Homo sapiens: one gene and its partners. The gene in region 1 interacts genetically with each later gene. Each region holds a gene or a part of one and is shown on either strand. Other genes may lie near its edges.

The links.
Region 2: changes in SREBF2 (region 1) and RPP21 together harm fitness more than expected from each alone (negative genetic interaction), as found in Homo sapiens cells (one large-scale study listed by BioGRID).
Region 3: changes in SREBF2 (region 1) and TPR together harm fitness more than expected from each alone (negative genetic interaction), as found in Homo sapiens cells (one large-scale study listed by BioGRID).

The regions. Positions count from the first base shown.
Region 1 is NC_000022.11:41,874,550-41,878,201, forward strand, and holds part of SREBF2 (sterol regulatory element-binding protein 2), read left to right. Parts: intron 1-787; coding exon 788-902; intron 903-993; coding exon 994-1,175; intron 1,176-2,679; coding exon 2,680-2,872; intron 2,873-3,392; coding exon 3,393-3,574; intron 3,575-3,652.
Region 2 is NC_000006.12:30,343,578-30,347,329, forward strand, and holds RPP21 (ribonuclease P protein subunit p21), read left to right. Parts: upstream 1-1,578; 5' UTR 1,579-1,594; coding exon 1,595-1,651; intron 1,652-1,720; coding exon 1,721-1,821; intron 1,822-1,889; coding exon of another isoform or gene 1,890-1,913; coding exon 1,914-1,996; intron 1,997-2,854; coding exon 2,855-2,980; coding exon of another isoform or gene 2,981-2,987; intron 2,988-3,135; coding exon 3,136-3,233; 3' UTR 3,234-3,280; downstream 3,281-3,752. Other genes in the region: TRIM39-RPP21 protein, read left to right, coding at 1,721-1,821, 1,914-1,996, 2,855-2,980, 3,136-3,233. UniProt on the Homo sapiens protein: Component of ribonuclease P, a ribonucleoprotein complex that generates mature tRNA molecules by cleaving their 5'-ends.
Region 3 is NC_000001.11:186,351,254-186,354,905, reverse strand, and holds part of TPR (nucleoprotein TPR), read left to right. Parts: intron 1-1,055; coding exon 1,056-1,218; intron 1,219-2,795; coding exon 2,796-2,930; intron 2,931-3,435; coding exon 3,436-3,576; intron 3,577-3,652.

The DNA of each region.
Region 1 (3,652 bases):
AATTTCATTTTCCTTGCCTACAAATCTGAAAGCTGTACATCCTAAGTAAAAATCTATGCCTTAAGATAACTGTCCAGGCTAGGCACTGTGGCTTACGCCTGTAATCCCAGCACTTTGGGAGGCTGAGGCGGGTGGATCACGAGGCCAGGAGTTCAAGACCAGCCTGGCCAACATGGTGAAACCCCGTCTCTACTAAAAATACAAAAAATTAGCCGGGCGTGCTGGCAGGTGCCTGTAATCCCAGCTACTTGGAAGGCTGAGGCAGGAGAATTGTTTGAACCTGGGAGGCAGAGGTTGCAGTGATCTGAGATCGCGCCATTGCACTCCATCCTGGGCAACAAGAGTGAAACTCTGTCTTGGAAAAAAGAAAAAAAAAAAGATAACTGTCCAACAATGCTGTGGTTGTTTTTTTCATTTGTTTTCGTTAAAGTTTGTTATGGTGCTAGGATTATTATAAGAAGTGGGAACAATAGCTAATATTTATTGAGTGTCAACTATTTGCCAGGCTCAGGGCTAAGCCCTTTACACTCATTATCTCATTTAGCCCTGCTGCAAGCCTGTGATTCACGCGCTTTCATTATCTCTGTGCTAATGAGGAGGAAAGTGAGGTTCTGAGGTATGGAATAACTTCTCCCGAGTGGCACAGCTAATCATTGGGAGGACCAGCATCTGAACTTGGTTTCTCCTCTCACAGAGCCATGCTGTCATCCCAAGTGCTAGGGCTCTGCTCTTTTCACACTGTAGCCTGCACTGGTCTCACTGTGTTTTCACTCATCTTCCTACCCAGATGCACAAGTCTGGCGTTCTGAGGAAGGCCATTGATTACATCAAATACTTGCAGCAGGTCAATCATAAACTGCGCCAGGAGAACATGGTGCTGAAGCTGGCAAATCAAAAGAACAGTAAGTGTGCTGAGAAAAGGCTTGTCAGCCCTGGCCCAGGTGGGGCTTTGTAAAAGCAGATCATTTTCACCAGGTGGGGTTTTCTTTGCAGAGCTTCTAAAGGGCATCGACCTAGGCAGTCTGGTGGACAATGAGGTGGACCTGAAGATCGAGGACTTTAATCAGAATGTCCTTCTGATGTCCCCCCCAGCCTCTGACTCAGGGTCCCAGGCTGGCTTCTCTCCCTACTCCATTGACTCTGAGCCAGGAAGCCCTCTATTGGATGATGCAAAGGTACAGACTTTTGAAATCTCCTGATCCCTGGAATCTTTCCCATTTCCCCTAAGAAGATAGCTGGGAGGTCACAGTTATGAGGCCAGGCCGCATGTTAAGAGGGCCTAGCCTGGAGAAAAACAGGAATTCTGTGAAATTAGCCAGGTCCTGGAGAATAAAGAAAGAAAAAACTGACTCCGGGGGGAAACAGTCCCTCAGGTTTAACTGGTCCTTGCCGATAGGCCCCGTCAGAGAGGAATGAGTGCCAGATCCAGAACGAGAATGCAGAGTAGCTGTTGTGGGGGCGTTGGGAGCTGCTGGAGGCACCTCATTGCTTCACTCTGCCTTTAATGGGCCTGGCAAGACCACTTTGGGAGGCTGATCAGTTGGTTTAGGATGAGGCTGCCTCTGGGTCCTCTTTTCAGAAATGATTACAATTTGCAGTCTAACAGATAACATTTTACCTATGGGCCTTTAATCGTCAAAGCCCCTGGCAATGGTAGTTTAATGGAATTACTTAAGAGACGCTCTGAGCCTAATGATCTTCCTGGGAACCTGTAGAGACCACTGGGTTTTGTACTGTATTTTGACTTCGGCAGTTTCTGACTCTGAAAGCACAAAGTTCCCTCCTAGTGTTTGTTTTTGACTAAGCTGTTTATTGTATCATATACTTAATTTTACTAAGGAAGCTCCATTTTTGAAATATTCTTATAAATGTGGTTCTGTTTGGCAACAACAGGCTGTTTGACATATAAATTGAATTAGCTGGGCTTCTGAGTCATCAGAAGAAAATCTTAAATGGTTTTAAAATATTGAAAAGAAATGACATGCTATATACACATTGGGGCGCAGGGGAGATCTGGCTTCAGCCCTCCTGCTGTAAAATGGAGAGTGGGGTGGGTGTAGACAATGATACAGTTTTAGAACAGGTAAAATCCTTTAGATAGATTCACACTAAATACGGTCTTTGATCAACTTCATTGAGGTGTAATTTAAATGCAATAAAATATACCTACTTTAAAAGTACAGTACCAAGAGTTTTAACATAATGTACAGTGCTATGTAACTGTCACTGTAATCAAGATATAGAACATTTCCATCACCCCAAAAAGCTCTTTTGTACACCTTTGCAGGTAGTTTCCCACACCCCTCTCCAGCCTCAGACAATGACTGATTCATTGGTTTCCTGTTACTTTAGATTCATTTTGCCTGTTCTGGAATTATACAGAAACAGAATCATACAGTGTGTTCTCTTTTGTGGTAGATTTCTATTTTAAAAGAAAATCTCTTCTACCTTTGTTCTTTGGAACATGTACTTTTCTCAGTTAGCAAGCAGGTGAATGTGCCAATGTTTGAGCAGCAGTTAGTGAATTATAGGCTTCTCAGTTCCCATCTGGCCTTAGTCCTGAGTTAATCGACTTGAATTTAAACCTCATAACCATTTCTCAATATATATATATGTATTTATAAAGTGCTGTAAAAACCTATGCAGTATTTATTCCAACCTCGAGGCCTTGTTTTGAAGGTCAAAGATGAGCCAGACTCTCCTCCTGTGGCGCTGGGCATGGTAGACCGCTCACGGATTCTTCTGTGTGTCCTCACCTTCCTGTGCCTCTCCTTTAACCCCCTGACTTCCCTGCTGCAGTGGGGAGGGGCCCACGACTCTGACCAGCACCCACACTCAGGCTCTGGCCGCAGTGTCCTGTCATTCGAGTCAGGTAGGTGGAGGCCCCTTGCCCCACCTGGGCATGGCTGGACCACTATGGCAGGAGAAGGACCCTGTGTACAAACTTCTTGGCTTGGCTACCAGGTCCCAAAGGGCTTTTATAGTGGGCCCCCACCTGCTTGCTTCTGATAGGGACTGGCATAAGTTCCATTTTAGAAGTAACAAGGCAAGCCCAAGTTCAGTCAGAATGAGCAAAACAAATCAGGGACCCACACTACTCTAAATACCCTGGGGTGGAGGGGTGGTACCTATTTGAAGGAGGATATCGTGTTTTTTATCTGAGGTTGCAAAACCAATGCCTCAACCCTTTCAAAACAAAGATTTTTATGGCACTCAGCTCCATAATGAGAAGGGCTACAGTCATTAGCCCTGTTTAGATTATAGAATTATTTGCCCTTTCTTCTGAAAATGAGGTAGAAGACTCTTTCCTGTGATAGTGCTGGGGTCTGTCAGGTGCCTGGCTGCTCCGCAAGGCCTTTCCTAGCAGACTCTGCTGAGACGCTCCTTCTTAGGTTCTGGGGGCTGGTTTGACTGGATGATGCCTACTCTTCTCTTATGGCTGGTAAATGGTGTGATTGTCCTGAGCGTCTTTGTGAAGCTGCTGGTTCATGGGGAGCCAGTGATCCGGCCACACTCGCGCTCCTCGGTCACCTTCTGGAGGCACCGGAAACAGGCAGATCTGGATCTCGCCAGAGTGAGTTCTGTGTCCGCCCTTCCCCATCCTCCCCCAGACTTGACAAATAATTCAGCAACTCGTGTCAAAGAAAGTCCT
Region 2 (3,752 bases), on another chromosome or scaffold:
AGTTTACTGAGGGCATTTCAGTTCCTCCTACCACCTCAACAGGACTTTGTCCAGACTCTCCTCCTCTTACCTTTGTGCCTTGACTGTGGTTCTTTGTGGCAAGATACTTTGGTTGGTTAAAATAATATGGAACAAAGGATCCACTGAAGTGATCTCTGTGTTGTGTGGTAATTTGGTGACAGCCTTGTACTGATGTGTAAGAATCACTGGGTGTTAGACATGCATGTTCCTGGGTCTCACCCTTAGTGGTTAGTCAAGGTCTGGGGTGGGCCGGACATCTACATTTTATTTATGAGACAGAGTCTCGTTCTGTCGCCCAGGCTGGAGTACAGTGGTGATCTCAGCTCACTGCAACCTCCGCCTCCCAGGTTCAAGCAATTCTCCTGCCTCAGCCTCCAGAGTAGCTGGGATTACTATGGACTATAGCCATGCACCACCACACCCGGCTAATTTTAGTGGAGACAGGGTTTTGCCATGTTGGACAGGCTGGTCTCGAACTCCTGAACTCAAGTAATCTACCTGCCTCAGCCACTCAAAGTGCTAGGATTACAGGTGTGAGCCACCGTGCCCAGCCTACATCTACATTTTAAACACACCACTCTCATTTGAGTCCGAAAACCCTTGTGAAACTAGTTCCAGAGGAGGTTTCAGCCATGTCCTTCCTCCCAGCTGGAGCCCTGCTTGTCTGTCCCCGCCTGGCACTGGGTCTGAAATTGGAGAGAAGTCATCCTCTCCTGACTTATGCTGCCCTCCCCATCTCAGGGTTCATTGATCTTCTACCCCTCCAATTCATGTCCCTCTGCTTCTGACTTCAGTAACTGATAGTCACTATGAGTCACAGGACACCAGACAGAAGAACTGGAAGATAGAAGAGGTCAGAGGGAGGGGTGTGAGGTGAATGTCAGTGTGGGGAGTGGGGTGAAGTTTCAGGGGCAGGGGATGCTGTTGACAGATTTCTGTGCTGTACCTAAGCCTAGGAGTTAGAAACCATTCACTCAGAAAGTGAGGATCACCTACTGTGTGTCCAGCACTGCATAACAGGAAGTGTGTTTCTTTGGTAGGTGGAATAGTAGGAGTAAACTGTGCTTTCTGAGGACCGGGAGTCCTTTTCCCTCCCTCCAGCACCCTCATGATCCTTCCCACTTTCACCCCCACTGGCACCAGTGCTTTTTTTTAATGTATTACCTCTGTGCCTTCCGTCTGTAGATCTTACAGGCATCTGCCTCGGACCTCAGGAGAGTAGGGCAGAAGCTCTAGCTGGGTATAAATTGCACATAACCATCTCCCCAACGTAGCTACATAAAGAGACCAGCCTTCTGTCCTGAAAATGGCCGATTTAAGATCCTCACCTGCTCCACTAGGTCTCTAGGTGATATAATTGGTCATGAGCTTGAGGAAGACAAAAGCACTGAAAATTCATAAAGGGACCCTGGGCATGGATTGCTGGGGTTGTGTTTAGAAACCGATGAGTTTGTGAGGCCTCCGGGAGGCTCCCGAGGGCGCGGGGACTACGTTTCCCAGGAGGCCTCGCGCGGACGCCCGGGCGGGGCTGTGCGAGGGGTGGGGCTGCGGGAGGCCCTGGAGCGCGGCGGTGATGGCGGGGCCGGTGAAGGACCGCGAGGCCTTCCAGAGGCTCAACTTCCTGTACCAGGTGAGTCTGCGACAAGGGCCCCACGGGGACGGTGCTCGGCGTCCCAGAGTGACTGCTCCCCTCCCGCAGGCCGCCCATTGTGTCCTTGCCCAGGACCCCGAGAACCAGGCGCTGGCGAGGTTTTACTGCTACACTGAGAGGACCATTGCGAAGCGGCTCGTCTTGCGGCGGTGAGACAGCCACGGGGCGGGCGGCGGGCGGGACGCGGGAGGAACGCGAGAGGGAGCGCGGGCGCCAGACCACTATCCTCCTCCGCCCCCAGGGATCCCTCGGTGAAGAGGACTCTCTGTCGAGGCTGCTCTTCCCTCCTCGTCCCGGGCCTCACCTGCACCCAGCGCCAGAGACGTGAGTGCTCCAACGGAGGTGGAAGACTGCGGAGCATTGGGGGCGCGGAGGGGGGCGGGGTGGGGGGCGGGCACTGGAGGCCAACAGCGCCTTTCTCACTGTAGATGGATGTTGGGTGTGGGATTCGCAGGAGTCTTCCTTCTTCGGGTTTGGATTAAGTTCCTAACGCCACTTGCACAAACTAGGGTTTGGGCTCGGCTGTTTTTTTTTTTTTTCTTCCAGTGTGGGCAATAAATAATAACTTTTAAGAGGCAACCCCACCCATGCACAATAATAGATGTTGTTCGGCTTTGTGGAGGACGATTCCCATCACCATTCATTTATTAAGCAAATACTTATTTTCTAAAATGTGTCAGGTACTGTGCTAGATTCATTATTCTCATTGAAATTACGGTCTGATGGGACAGACTAAGAAACAAAATGGTGTAGAAAAAGATTAACTGGGGGAGTAGAATGCTCACTTACTCATGCCAGTGGTGGCGAAGTTTATGATAAGCAAAGGGAGTGAGAGATGGAAATTCTAGGCATGTGTGCAGACTCTGAGACAAGAGAGCTTGTGGTGCTGTCAAAGAAATGAGAGTTCAGGAGGCTGGAGTTTGAGGTAGGAGGGCAAAACATGAGACTGGAGGGGGAAACAGGCCAGTTCTTGAAGTCTTGTTAGGGAGTTTGAACTTTATCTTAAAGAGTTCCAGGAAATCGATGGAGCTTATGCCGAGGCCTGACACCATCAAATGTGCATTCAAATTGGGGGTGTGGTGGGGGAGCGGGGATACCTACTGAAAAACACTGGAGGCAAAACTGGCAGCAAGAGACCGTTACTTCTAAACGTGGACAGTCTTTTTCCCATGTTCACCCTAGGCTGCAGGGGACAGCGCTGGACCGTACAGACCTGCCTAACATGCCAGCGCAGCCAACGCTTCCTCAATGATCCCGGGCATTTACTCTGGGGAGACAGGCCTGAGGCCCAGCTCGGGAGCCAAGCAGGTGAGAGGTGAGGGAGAAAATGGAGGACACCCCAGAGGATAGGGACAATGGAGAACGTAGAGTGAAGAGGACACATGGACAGGTTCTGGGTTGGTGTGAGAAGTACCACAGTCAGAAAACTAATTCTGTTTCTCTGATTCTGCTCATTTACTCAGATTCCAAACCACTACAACCCTTGCCAAACACAGCCCACTCCATTTCAGACCGCCTTCCTGAGGAGAAAATGCAGACTCAGGGTTCCAGTAACCAGTGATGGATTCACCCCATCTCCCAAATAAAGTTTACTTGTTTTACATTCCATGATTCTGTTCTGTGGGTATTTCAACTCTTAATTCCATTTTCTTCTGTTTCTGTCTGTGTTTCTTGGTCACCTTTGTAATCCCACCATGCAGGGAGATCGTGATTTCCATAGACCACTTGGCCTCACTCAGCAGCTTGCATTTCCAAGGCCATGGCCCCAGTTCCCTATCAATGTCCTGAGCCACCTTAGGGCATTCCATGTTTGGGCAGCCATAATTGCTGACTGAAGAGCTGGAGAGAATGATGCCACTGCTGCTGTTTTTAAACAAGGGGAGAAATATGGGGCAGCGGAGAGTGTTTGTATCCTCTAGGCCCACTCATAGTCAGAAAAGACTCAGGTCTTTTCCCAGTCTCAAAGTTGTCTTTAATAAAATTCTGATAAAGGAAATGGCGCAAACCTGAACTAACAAAGTCAAAGATGCTAACAAAGGACACCGACAGACATTTTGCAATTATGTCCCATAGGTAAACT
Region 3 (3,652 bases), on another chromosome or scaffold:
AATAAAAATAAGTTGAAGTTCATGTGAGGAATGTTGGTAGTTTACCTTCCTAAGATTAAAGGACTTGTTTCGGTAGGACTTAATTCTTTTAAAAATGCACCAGATGATGAGAGAAATGAGAGCAAATTTTATTCCACCTTTTCTATTCTAGGTAGAAGAGAAGCAAGTGCTATGTAGTTTTAGGAGAATTAATTTTCTTGGTCACATCCAAAGAAATAATAAATATTTCATGATTATTTGTTATTAAATTCATTGAATGCTTGTTAGTTTAGTTTGTTAGGACAATATTTATTTTTATATAGTACATGATAAAACTGTTTCTGTTTTATAGCAGGCAGGATATATTGCAGGCAGTTACCCCTATACATCTAATAGTTCAGCAACCCCAATTAAAGCACTTCTTTTTTCTCTGTTGATACCTCTAGCCAGCCATTATGTCAGCTTTCAAGCACATAAGAAAATAAAACTGAGGATTATAGAAGAAAAAAGGATTAGCAAAAATCCATCACTAACCCTGTATAATAACTTAATTTGTATACTGCATTGTAGTGGGTGTCTGGTGTTATCAATATTGCATTGTCATTACTTTAAATATAATTGATTTTTTAAAAATAAGATTAAAAAGTTACTTAGCATGAAATACTTTGCTTACTTAGAACTTGAACCACTACATTTGGAATTGGGAAAAAAGAATGAAGGTTTTACCTTATTACACAAGCCACTTCTTCATAAATCATAAAATTAACCCCTTTCCCATTTAGAAAAAAAAAAGTGCAGCTTGCTGCCAGCGCTCATTTAATTTTACATAAGCATGCTGTTTGAGGTTGAGGCAAATCTGACAGATTTTCAGTGTGAAAATAAAATATAAAAACTGTTCCTGGAGTTATTTCTAAGCAGAATTCAACTTAACAGAAATATGTATGATGTTACATTAGGATTAGAGACAATATTCTCAGGGCATTTGGGGAAATGGGTTAAGCTATTGTGAAATTTCTTCAAGGGATTAAGCTAGGATATCATTTCAGTTACTTGTAGAATTACTTTTTTCATACCAGTTATGAAATGCTGCAAGATAATGTTGAAGGATATCGTCGAGAAATAACATCACTTCATGAGAGAAATCAGAAACTCACTGCCACAACTCAAAAGCAAGAACAGATTATCAATACGATGACTCAAGATTTGAGAGGAGCAAATGAGAAGCTAGCTGTCGCAGAAGTGAGTCCAATATCCCTTGTCCAACTTGCATTATAAGTTGCATTTGACATTTCTTTAGTTTTTACTTTGAATTTTACTCACTGATAGGACTTAGGTATTTAAGAAGTTTGGAGGTTACACCAAGTAATTAATACATAGTTTGCAAATAGCCAGTGTGCGTTAGTGGGGTGATTGTTTCTATTAAGATAGAAGAGGGAAAGGAATTTGTTTTTCTGCTGGGCTAAGATATACTCGCAAGTCTTGCATTTCAAAATAAATTTGTAGGTCAGTGTTTGGTTCTAACAAAGACGTTTTTTTTTTTGGTTTTTTTTTTCTTGAGACAGAGTCTCACTCTGTCGCCCAGGCTGGAGTGCAGTGGCACGATCTTGGCTCACTGCAAGCTCCGCCTCCCGGGTTTACGCCATTCTCCTGCCTCAACCTCCTGAGTAGCTGGGACTACAGGTGCCCGCCACCACACCTGGCTAATGTTTTGTATTTTTAGTAGAGATGGGGTTTCACTGTGTTAGCCAGGATGGTCTCGATCTACTGACCTCGTGATTTGCCCGCCTTAGCCTCCCAAAGTGCTGGGATTACAGGCATGAGCCACAGTGCCTGGCCAGACGAATATGTTATTCATTCTTGCTCATCTGTAATAAAAAGCAATATAAAAATTACATTGCATTGAATTTATATTTCTGAATTTTAACTTGAATATAAATGTCCATTTGAAATTATTACTTTTAACTAAATACTTAGTTTTGTGATGATAAATTTTTTATATAGTTTTCTTTGTTATTCAGTTATCTCTTCTGTCTTTGATCATTACTTGTAAGCTAGGTATAGTTGTCCCCCATTTTACCTGTGTAAAACAGACTCAAGAGCTAATGTATAATTTGCCTATTTTGGGACAGTCATGAGAGATGGGTTGGTTAGGACTTGAACCCATGTCTTATAATGCTCTTATAAGGCTGTATTCTTTATTTTTATCTTGCTCCAACTCCATTGTGAGGAGTGGGCAGCAGCACTTTTTCAAACTGGTAGAGTGAATTTTATCATTGATCATTTATATGAATCTGTGTGTAAATATGAGTACTTGTGTGTAAATATGAGTACTTTGAGCTTTCAAAACACTCTCCCTGGTCCCCTTGAGACTCAGACTCTTGGGGTTGAGGGGAGGGAGAAACTTTAAATAGATCAATCATCACTTTTAAACAGGTACTTTGAAACCGGCTTGGATTCTAAAAGTTACATAATTTAATAGTAGTCAGGTATGAATGATTACAGCAGTCATGCAATTCTGCTTTCTTCTTCTCACATATTAAATTTTTCTTGCTGTTATTTTTTAAACTGTGGATTGTTAGAGCAAGGAACCATAAGTATTTGTAATTGAAAGATTTTTTCATTGATGATCCCCAATAATTTTTGCTTCGTATTTTAGCACATGAAACTGTTTTGTATTTCCTTATACAATGAGGAGATATAGTCCCTAAGAGCATTAAAAAAAAGTAGTGATGTATGAATCATTTTAATTTTATAATCTTAATACACTTGACACCATGTTTTTCAGCATTTTTTATTTCATTTCTACTTATGTTTAGGTAAGAGCAGAAAATTTGAAGAAGGAAAAGGAAATGCTTAAATTGTCTGAAGTTCGTCTTTCTCAGCAAAGAGAGTCTTTGTTAGCTGAACAAAGGGGGCAAAACTTACTGCTAACTAATCTGCAAACAATTCAGGTAACCAAATAAAAAGCCTATGTAGAAAAAATGTATAAAAGTTAAATTTAGATTTTTTTTATCCTCTCAATTTCCTTAATTAGAAAATTTATCCATCACTTTTGTCATCCATTATGATCATTGAATTTTGCAGTTTATTAAGACATTTAAATATTTTAAATAAAATATTGAAAGAGAATTGATTGAAACCATACATTGGTAAGTCCTCAGGTATATTTACAGTGTCCTGTGCAGTTTTACTATTTATAAGATTAATTCTTTGGTTTTTATTTTCTTTAAAACTTTGGGAAATCTGAATGACGATTATAATACATTCCATCTCTTTCCTGTATAATAGATGTTTTAATATAAAAAATACCAGAATACTTTCTTGATAAATACTGTAGATTTTAGCTGCTTCATGTAGAAATGGGTTGTAATATTGTAATTCTTTCTTGCCTTCAATTTTTATTTTTTTGTATTGCCTTTTTCTTAAGCATAACCAAAAATCTTTTCTTTGCTTTAGGGAATACTGGAGCGATCTGAAACAGAAACCAAACAAAGGCTTAGTAGCCAGATAGAAAAACTGGAACATGAGATCTCTCATCTAAAGAAGAAGTTGGAAAATGAGGTGGAACAAAGGCATACACTTACTAGAAATCTAGATGTGAGTCCATCAGAGTTCTGAATTTCTGTAGGGTGTTTATGTTCAGTAATTAATCTGGTGTGTGGACAGTCTGCCA